Linked DNA regions of Homo sapiens: region 2 is linked to region 1. Evidence: fine-mapped expression QTL. Tissue or cell type: lung. Region 1 holds a variant in brackets; the other region holds the start of a gene. All regions are shown on one strand. Distances are between the middles of the regions.

What was found. PIP is the estimated chance that this variant, and not a neighbour inherited with it, causes the effect.
Region 2: it holds the start of BAHCC1, and the variant in region 1 is fine-mapped to the expression of BAHCC1 in lung (TOPMed, PIP 0.97).

The regions. Positions count from the first base shown.
Region 1 is chr17:81,456,963-81,462,101 of GRCh38, forward strand. BAHCC1 (BAH domain and coiled-coil containing 1) reads left to right here. Exons shown (of 28, transcript NM_001377448.1): 17 at 448-630; 18 at 1,203-1,504; 19 at 1,659-1,763; 20 at 1,851-2,007; 21 at 2,092-2,206; 22 at 2,291-2,366; 23 at 2,534-2,642; 24 at 3,315-3,434; 25 at 3,568-3,744; 26 at 3,904-5,084. Among named protein-coding and RNA genes, the nearest start is that of MIR3186, 8.3 kb to the left of the region's middle. RefSeq lists an enhancer at 1-809. The variant A/G (reference allele first, on the strand shown) is at 2,428.
Region 2 is chr17:81,392,888-81,398,026 of GRCh38, forward strand. It overlaps BAHCC1 (BAH domain and coiled-coil containing 1), which reads left to right and starts at 2,570. Exons shown (of 28, transcript NM_001377448.1): 1 at 2,570-2,748. RefSeq lists enhancers at 667-1,224, 3,308-3,916, 3,917-4,525 and a silencer at 1,013-1,282.

The DNA of each region.
Region 1 (5,139 bases):
GTGTGTCCAGAAACAGGAGCCTAGAAAAATAGAAGCTTCCTTTCTTCTGCCAGCCCCTTCCCCCAAGGTCTCAGATGCCTGAGAAAGAACAAAGGGAGGGCCGCTTGGGGCTGGGGGAGGGGCAGAGGGCCATCTGGGCGGAGGACAGCAGAAAAAGGGGAAGGGACTTTCTGGGGAGGGGGCCCCAGCCCTGCCTGGTGGGTGCCCTATTGCCCAGGGTATAAGAAAAAAACACCCCTCCCCACACCCATACAAATCCCTTCAGGCTGGAGGCCAGGACCTCAGGCACCTGCCCCCAAAGCAGCCCCACAGAGCGGCCCAGAGGGTGACGGTGACCAGCTCCACTCACAGCCCCGCCATAACCGCATGCCCAGAGGGTCACCTCCCCCACCTCTCAATGGCACAGCTTACCATCAAGTCATCAGGACCCCTCTGCCTCTCTCCCAGGCAGTGGCTATGACAGTGAGGACTGCGAGGGTCTCCTGGGGACAGAGGCACCACCCAGGGAAGCAGGGCTGCTGCTGCACACCGGGGCCAGTGTGGCCGTGCTGGGGCCCTCACCCTCCTCTGTGGTCAAGATGGAGGCCAACCAGAAGGCCAAGAAGAAGAAGGAGAGGCAGGGGTTGCTAGGTAACCAGGAGGGAGGACAGGGGTTGCTAGGTAACCAGGAGGGAGGGCAGGGATTGCTAGATAACCAGGAGGGAGGGCAGGGGTTGCTGGGTAACCAGGAGGGAGGGCAGGGTTTGCTGGGTAACCAGGAGGGAGGGCAGGGGTTGCTGGGTAACCAGGAGGAAGGGCAGGGGTTGCTGGGTAATCAGGAGGGGGAGGGCAGGGGTTGCTGGGTAACCGGGGGGAGGGCAGGGGTTGCTGGGTAACCAGGAGGGGGAGGGCAGGGGTTGTTGGGTAACCGGGGGGAGGGCAGGGGTTGCTAGGTAACCAGGAGGGAGGGCAGGGGTTGCTGGGTAACCAGGAGGGAGGGCAGGGGTTGCTGGGTAACCGGGGGGAGGGCAGGGGTTGCTGGGTAACCAGGAGGGAGGGCAGGGGTTGCTGGGTAACCAGGAGGGGGAGGGCAGAGGTTGCTGGGTAACCCGGGGGCGGGCAGGGGTTGCTAGGTAACCAGGAGGGAGGACCGGCACAGTCAGCCCAACCAGCCGGGTCTCTAGGATGGGGACCCCTGTGACGGCCTCCTCTCCTTCCCACAGGGGCCTGCCGCCTGTCCAGCCCTGAGAGTGAGGTCAAGATCAAGAGGCGGTCGGTGAAGGCCAAGGTGGGCACCACCCTGGAGCGGGCCCCAGGGCAGAGGCCCCCAGGTGCGCTGGGCAAGAAGAAAGCCAAGGGCAAGGCCAAGGGCAGCCTGCGGGCAGAGCCGGGGGCCACCCCCAGCAGGGACGCCCTCTTCAACCCCTCTCGGGCCTTCGCCTGCCGTGAGGAGGGCAGCCAGCTGGCCAGTGAGCGCCTCAAGAGGGCCACGCGCAAGGGCACAGTGCTGCAGCCAGTGCTGCGGGTGAGGCTGGGCTCTGGGGTGCTGGGCGGAGAGGGTGGGTGCCTGTGAGGAAAGGCCTTCCCCGCCCTCCCCCGCACGCTGGCCCCTGAGCTCTGGGTCAACCTGAGGCTGTCCCACCCTTGACTCAGCCCCTTCTCTGCCTGCCCACGCGCAGCGGAAGAACGGGGCCCTGTCCATCACGCTGGCCACACGCAACGCCAAGGCCATCCTGGGGAAGGGCCGGAAGCTGAGCAAGGTGAAGCACAAGGCCGGCAAGCAGGTAGCAGCCCCCCACTCTGGGAGCCCACTGTGCACCCACCTGCACCCCGCCTGCACCCCACCCAAGCCTGACTCCTCTGGCCCCCAGGGCAAGGGCCGGGCCGTGAGCCGCCTGCTGGAAAGCTTCGCCGTGGAGGAAGACTTTGAGTTCGACGACAACAGCAGCTTCTCGGAAGAGGAGGAGGACGAGGAGGAAGAGGAGGAGGACAGCGGCCCTCTGAGCGCAGAGCAGAGCGCCGCCCTAGGTGAGCAGGGCCAGGAAGGGTGCCAGCCGCCTGGGGAGGGGTGGTGGGTAGGCCGTGCCGGCCGCTGACACCTTGTGCCCACAGCGCGCTCGTGTGCCATCCACAAGGAGGACCTGCGGGACGGGCTGCCCGTGCTCATCCCCAAGGAGGATAGCCTGCTGTACGCGGGCAGCGTCAGGACCCTGCAGCCACCCGACATGTGAGGCCTGGGCATGGTGGGGCAGGGCAGGGGCCTGGAGGGCAACCGAGACCCGTGGCACCTCACATTCCCCAATGCCCCCAGCTATAGCATCGTCATCGAGGGCGAGAGGGGCAACCGGCAGAGGATCTACTCACTGGAGCAGCTGCTGCAGGAAGCGGTGAGGACCGGGCCGGCCCGCCCCGGGGAGGGGCCTGGCTGGCTTGTCCCAGGACAAAGGA[A/G]GGCCTTGGCCTGGGCCGCAGCCACTCCCAGGCCCAGGGACCAGACTCTCAGGCAGCCCTGGGCCAGGCCCCACCTGCTCATGGGTCGTCGCCCGCGTTCCTGCAGGTTCTCGATGTGCGGCCACAGTCCAGCCGGTACCTCCCGCCCGGCACGCGGGTCTGCGCCTACTGGAGTCAGAAGTCTCGATGTCTGTACCCGGGCAACGTGGTCCGGGGTAAGTTGCACCCAAAGCGGGGGCTGGGGCAGGCCCCTCTGAGACCCACAGGCTCATATCTGCCCCCAACAGCCTGGCTTCCGAGGCTGGCGAGGGCAGAACCAGCTCTCTGCTTAGACAGAGTACGACAATAAAATGAGCTCCCCAGGCGCCATGAAAAAGCACAGGGTGTGTGGGGAGGGAGGGTGGGGGCTCCGGCCTCCAGCCAAGCAGAGAGGGCCCAGCAGGAAGGGGCCCTGAGCACTGCTGCTGGGGGTCACAGAGTACGTCAGGGGGCACCAGCTCCCCTGGGCAAAACCTCCTGACTACAGGCAGGGGCATGTAGGTCCCTAGGGCGAAAGGCTCAAGGGTCCCACAGGCAAGTGGCCAGGTGGGCGGGAGGCGCCTCCAGGCGGGACTCGGCTGGGAGGTGGGCACGTGGGCGTCAGCACGTGTGGGGAGGTCTGGTTCTGGGCTGGGTGGGGTGACGGTGGCATCACATGGGAGGCACTGCAGGAGGTGGAGAGGAGGCCCCCGCTCCTGGGCTGCAGGGCGGCTCCACTGTCTGTGTGGTCAGGGAGCAGAACCCCAGAGCCCTCCCCTCACCCTCCCCACCGGCTTTGGCAGCCCCGCCTCCCTGTTTCGGGCGCCTACTGGGGGTTCCAGCTGCAAGCTCAGGTGTGCCGTCCACAGGGGCCTCCGGTGACGAAGATGAGGACCTGGACTCAGTAGTGGTGGAATTTGACGATGGGGATACAGGCCACATCGCCGTCTCCAACGTCAGGCTGCTGCCCCCTGACTTCAAGATCCAGTGTGAGCCTGGGAGCTGCACGGGGCAGGGCCCTGCCTGGGCTCCACTGTGTCCAGACGGGCTCCCAAGGAAGGGTTGGGGTGGCAGTCACCCCACAGCCATGGCACTGAAGCCCTTGGCCCATGCTATCCACAGGCACAGAGCCCTCTCCAGCCCTGCTAGTGTCTAGCAGCTGCCGGAGGACCAAGAAGGTATCCAGTGAGGCACCCCCGCCTAGTGAAGCCGCCACCCCCAGCCTGTCCCCCAAAGCACAGGACGGCCCCGAAGCTTTGAAGACACCTGGGAAAAAATCCATTAGCAAAGACAAAGCTGGTATTTTACCGGACTTCCCAGAATCCGGATCGGGGAAGGCACCCTCTGGGGGCTGGGGGAACCAGGAGGCCCGTGGGGTAGGCAGGGTCCGGGGAGGGGCAGGTGGAGGCAGCTTTGTGGGCCCAGCTGGGGCTGACTCTGCTGGGCTTTTGCCCTCAGGTAAAGCCGAACTCCTAACCTCAGGTGCCAAATCCCCCACGGGGGCCTCCGACCACTTCCTGGGCCGCCGTGGCAGCCCCTTGCTGAGCTGGTCCGCGGTGGCGCAGACCAAGCGGAAGGCGGTGGCAGCGGCCAGCAAGGGGCCGGGGGTGCTGCAGAACCTCTTCCAGCTCAACGGCAGCAGCAAGAAGCTGCGGGCCCGCGAGGCCCTGTTCCCCGTGCACAGCGTGGCCACACCCATATTTGGCAACGGCTTCCGCGCCGACTCCTTCAGCAGCCTGGCCAGCTCCTACGCGCCCTTCGTCGGGGGGACCGGGCCGGGCCTCCCCAGGGGAGCCCACAAGCTGCTGCGGGCTAAGAAGGCCGAGAGGGTGGAGGCCGAGAAGGGTGGGCGGCGGCGGGCGGGCGGTGAGTTCCTGGTCAAGCTGGACCACGAGGGTGTGACCTCCCCCAAGAACAAGACCTGCAAGGCGTTGCTCATGGGGGACAAGGACTTCAGCCCCAAGCTCGGGCGGCCCCTGCCCAGCCCCAGCTATGTGCACCCGGCCCTTGTGGGCAAGGACAAGAAGGGGCGGGCACCCATCCCCCCGCTGCCCATGGGGCTGGCGCTGCGCAAGTACGCGGGCCAGGCAGAGTTCCCGCTGCCCTACGACAGCGACTGCCACAGCTCCTTCTCGGACGAGGACGAGGACGGGCCGGGGCTGGCGGCCGGCGTGCCCTCCCGCTTCCTCGCCCGCCTGTCCGTGTCCTCTTCCTCCTCTGGCTCGTCCACCTCCTCCTCCTCAGGCTCCGTGTCCACCTCCAGCCTCTGCTCCTCCGACAACGAGGACTCGTCCTACAGCTCAGACGACGAGGACCCGGCTCTGCTGCTGCAGACCTGCCTCACCCACCCCGTGCCCACCCTCCTGGCCCAGCCCGAGGCCCTGCGCTCCAAGGGCAGCGGCCCTCACGCGCATGCCCAGCGCTGCTTCCTGTCCAGGGCCACGGTGGCTGGCACCGGTGCGGGCTCAGGCCCCAGCAGCAGCAGCAAATCCAAGCTCAAGCGCAAAGAGGCCCTGAGCTTCTCCAAAGCCAAAGAGCTCTCCCGGAGGCAGCGGCCGCCCTCCGTGGAAAACCGGCCAAAGATCTCAGCCTTCCTGCCCGCCCGGCAGCTCTGGAAGTGGTCGGGGAATCCCACACAGGTAGGTCCAGCGGGAGGCGGGAGGAGCTCCTGGTTCCCAAGGAAACCGGGGCGGG
Region 2 (5,139 bases), 64 kb before region 1:
TCCTATATTAAAAAATTCAAATGAGGCTTTAAAAATTAACTTGAAAAAGGTTCCTGATCCGGAAACAGGCTCATCGGAGGCAGTGATGGGAACTCGGTTCCTTAGGAGAGTAGGAAATGCGCCGTCTGCGAGGGGCGCCCTGCGTGGACCCGGGGCCTCGGGGCGCGTCCACTTACCCGAGCCAGGAGAGACTGGGCCCCACGGTGTTAGCCCCGCGCTCGGGCTCGCGCGCCGCTTCCAGCTCGCGCCTCCTCCATCCCCGGAGGGCTCCGCGGGTCCCCGGCGACGGGTCCCTGCCCAGGGTCCGGGAACCTTCCCCTCCCCTCCTTTCTCAAGCGCCATTTCTCCGGAGCCGGGCCGGCCGTCCTCGGTGTACGCGGGAAGCGGGCAGCCTCCGCCTGCACCCGCGGGGCCGGGACCCGGAGGCACCCGCTTCCCCGACACACTCGCTGGGGCCGCTGCTCGCTGCTCCAGCCTCCCGAGGCCACGGCAAGAGCCCGGGGGTCGGCGCCACACACCCCCAGCCGGCGACCGCGCCCAGGGACCTAATTCAATCGCCCCCAGCCTAATGAATAGCCGCGCGCTAATCGGATCTCCGCGCGCTTCGGGGATTTACGCTTCCCGGCTCTCCCCCTCGTGCCCCGCGGCCCGCCAGACGTCGCTTCCGAAGGCGCCGGCCTGGGGCCTGGCCAGGGGCTCGGCCGCGGGGGGTCCCGGCCGCCGGAGCCGGGAGACGCCGGAGACGGGAGCCGGGCCCGCGCGACCGCCACTCCCGAGCCAGCCGGGGTGGGCCCCGCGCCTTGTCCTGCGTCCCCGGCCCGGCCCGCGGAGCGCCGGTGCTTACCTGCGAGCCCCGGGCTCTCCGGAGCTCCCCTCCGGGCCGAGCCGCCCGAAGCGGGCGCCGGCGTAGGCCCCGACTCAGGCAGGCGGGAAATCCCGGAGTCCCCGCCCGCGGCCCGCAGCCCCCCACCCCAGGTCGGCGTGGCCTGCGGGGGGGAAGGCCGGCCGGGGCCGGCCGCCCGCTTCCCCTTTCTCTCCAGATTCCTTTGATCCGCGGGCTCTCCGCCGCACCTCGGCTCCCGGGCTGCCCCGGTCGGCCCGCGGGGATCCTGGAAACGGTCCCCAGCTTATCTCCTTTCATCAAGCGGCCTTGGGCCGCCTTGAAACCGCGGAGCCAGTAATTGCTTTTTTCAGGAGGCCCAGTGCGGACTGGACAACAGCCAATCAGCGCCTTGTTTACACTCGGTGATGGACAGTCCACTGGCGGAGTGCCAACCAATCCCAGCGGTCCCGCGGGAGCGGGAGTGGGGGCGGGGAAACAGAGAGACAACAGGCTTTGAGTTTAACTCTTTCGTGTCCCTGCCGGAATGAGACGGTGGAGAATTTCGAATGCGTGTGAATCTGTCAGTTGGCTCCTAGTTTAAATATCCTTTTTTCCCCCAGAGGGGGAGGCAGAGATTCACATGGAGAAAGAGGAGCAAAAATAAATGTATCCATCGCCACTAAGACATCACCTCGACTCCCTGAGAATAAATAGCATTTGGGTGGGAAACCAAATTCTAACAGAAATATTTGTTTGCGGAATATTTTAGAAGTGGTTTGCATCTGATTACGATAAAAATTGTTCAGTGGCTTGCTTTAGTTGGAGTGAGGATTTAGCAGATAGGCAGACAGGGAGCAGCATTGAGAAATACTATACATGGTTTACCACACCATACCCGCTTCCCCCATTACCAAACTGAAAATATTTTCTAAATCTAGGTGTAGATGAAGAAAGGGCAATCCTTGTCTTCTCAATAAATCCCTGATTTTCATTTTAGTAGCTGCTCTGTTGCAAAGTGTGGCAGAGGGAGATAAAATTGAGAGCCAGTAATGTAGACGGCTGGAGACTCAGAACTCACTTCCCAGGGTCTGATCCCCAGGTCATGGGGAGGAGAGAGCCGGACGGGCTATTCAAAGCTTTTGCTGCCCAAGCAGCGGGCGTGCGTGCGTGCATCCGCGAGCTCGGGTCCGGGCAGGCAGCAGCTTCAGAGCGGTAGATGGGCCAGGCAACCTGGGGAGGCCTCTGGGCTTGGAGGTCTGGCCTACCTGCCACCTGCCAGACAGATTCCAGGGAGAAAAAGCAGCTACTTTTAAGGGGTGGTGGTGTTTCTTCCCTTGGCCTTCTGTGCGGCAGAAGCCAAACGTTAGACCTGCTGGATTAAACATATATGTGTGTGTGTGTGTCTGTGTCTGTGTCTACGCCTCCCCCTCCGCCGGGACACGCGCACTCGCTCGCTCCAGCTCCCTCTCCCGCCCTGCGCCACCACATTCCCATTCAGCAGCAATGATCTGCGCAGAGGAGCTGCGCAGTCGCCGGGCTTGAATTAGGCGCCATCGGGCTTGGTAGTAGCCCCGCTGCTTCCTGATTGGCAGTTCCCTGGCCCGGCGCCAGCCTATTGGGAGGCCTGTTTACGCCGAATGAGTGGCACGAGCTCCCGGCCGTGGAGGGCTGCGCGGCCAATCAGCGCGCTGGCTGTTCCGGGCTGAGTGGCACGAGCTTATTAGTATGCAGGGCCCGTGGCTCGCCGCGCCAGGCTGCAGGTTTGAGAGCCGCTCTGGATGGGCTCGCTAGAGTCGTTGTTGTGGAAGCGGTGCATTTACAGTGCAACAGTCAGCACATTGAAAATACCAATAGGAATACAAAACAAAGTCACATTTACTGATTTAATTGTATTGCATTCAGTTGTATCCAGGAAACAGCCTCCAGTAAGTAACTGAAATTGCTTTCATTTTTTTTTTGTTTTTGTATTTTTATTATTATTTTATTTTTTATTCTGGCTTTGGGGTTTTACATTTTTTTTAGCAAAAGAAATTCAGGATTGTGATGTTAAGAAGTATATATCTTCCCTTTTAACAAAATCCGTTAAAATGTTGAGGCTTTTTTTTTTCTTAAAAAATATGGACTATGAGCGATTTTTTTTTCTCTGAAAAATCTTATCGATCGGTTTAAAATTACCCCCGTAATGCATCCTTGCTTTGCTCTGAGCGCTTGTTGTCTCGATCGACACCCAGCATTAAAAACAAATACTCGAAGACAGGACAGGGACCGCCAGGCTGCGTCTGGCGCGAGCCGCGCGGGTGGCACCGGGCGGACAGTAGGCGAAGTCCGGGCGCCGCCAGCGTGCGCCCAGTTCTGGGTGACCCACGAACGAACCCCAACATTCGCTCCCCTACCCTGCTCCCCTCCCCGGAACAGTCCTGGGTTGGCCCTGCCCGGTCGGTCCGCGGCGAGGGGAACTGGCCGGGTCGTGGTACCCACGGCCGCTGCCCTGAGGGGCCTTCCGGGCCGAAGCTAGGGGCCGGGGAGGGGAATGGTCATGGCGAGTTTTTCGGGTCTTCGTTCCCAATTCAGAATTTTTTTTTTCCGGAGAAGTGGGGGTGGAGGAGGGGGACCGAGCAAGGCCGGCGCAGCGGGGCGTTTTCACCGCGCGCGTTCGGGACGGCGCGCGGGGCTCGGGTCACGGCCCGTGTGGCGGGGTCCGCGGGCTGGTTTTCTTCGGGCGCGGGGGTCAGGCGCGACCCCAGTTCTCATGACTCTCCCAGGGAGCGGGTGCGGCTGTTTCGCAGGGAGCGGGTTCTGCGGCGACGGCCGAGCCACTCGCGCCCCAAGGCGCGCCTGGTCCCAGCCCGGCCTGCAGGCCCCACCGCGCCCGCGCTCCCGGAGACGACGCCGGAGGGAGGCAGACGGGCCAGAGTCCTGGTCTCCGGCAGGCGGGCGAGGAGAGAGCGGGTTTTTAGATGCAAAAGCAGGAAACAAAGCAAACTTGTAGAAGCTCCAGATCCTGGAGCGCGCCAGCCACGCCTGGGGCCGCGGCAAGAGGGACCGGCGGCTCCAGGGTCACGCCCTGCCTTCCCGGGAGGGAGCCCTGTGCTCCTAGGTTCAGTTCCTTCCGAAATGCCCTCGTCAGCGATTCTCCGCCCGCCCGGGGCCCTCTGCCCGCCGCCACTTTTCGCTCCATTTCCTCCCTTACCTCAGCCCGACCTGGCGCTGCGGCGCCGTCCTCGCGGTCCTCCGGCGCGGCCTCTCCTGGAGCTGGGCTGGGAGTGGGCCCCGGGCCTCGGCACTCGGCGGGTGGCGGCGTCGCCGCTGCGGGACTGTGGGACTCCCAGCTCGGGCCGTGTGGCCGCCCTTCCTCGCCCCACTTCCTGGCCGCCTCAGGCTCCCCAGGCCCCCGAAGCCCGGCGCGGGCAGACGCGGAGGCGCGGCGCGGCCTCTCCCCGGGAGGAGAGAACACAAAGAAAAGCTCTCTCCAATCCGGTCAGAGCCGTGGCGGCGCAGGCAGGCGACAGTAATCCACCTCCTGTTTGCTTAAAAAGTCGAGCAGGCTGGTGAGAAAGGAACAATCGGGCCTGCGATCCGCCCGCAGGGGGTGGGAGATTAAAATTGTTGCTTCGTAGCCGAGCCCGCGTCCCGAGAATCGCCGGCAGCTCGCGCTTTCTCAACTTTGAAATTTCTTATTGGAGAGAAAAAAAAAAAAAAAAACAACCACAAAACAAAAGCACAGCACACACGACTCCCTGGAGGCCGCCAGGAAGCCTGGCACCCCCGCGTGCGCAGCCCCCGGCCCCTCTCCGGCCTTCGGCGCCTTTGAAGCTGCAGGTTTCTGACCTCCCTCCCTTTCCTTCTTTCCCTTTGTCCCGCCCGGCGCCCTCCGGGGCTCGGGAGGCGCCGGCCGGGGCTGGGGGCCCCCACGTCCCTAGTCCAGCCCGGGCAGCCCCTCCCCTGACCCCTGCGCTCGCAGCCCCCTCGCCAGAGCACTCTCCGGGCCCTGGCGGCCGGGCGCTCGCTTTGCAGGCCGGGATCGGGGCTTGGGAGCCGAGCTATTTGTTAGACCCGGGGAGAGAGCTGGCGATCCCCAGAGGGAAGGGAGCCCCAAACGCCTTTGTATGTAGTTGCCAGACAAAGAGAACTCTTTGTGTAGACCCATTTATTTACAATGCAAAAGCTCTCCGAATAAATATTAAAAAAGCTTATCAGCTGAGCAAATATGTATTCACTTAATACATTATGTTTTCGGTTATAGATTAAATCAAACACAAAATAGTCTGCAAATAAGACGTTTTAGAACCCGGACCATAAAATATCGCAATTTAAAA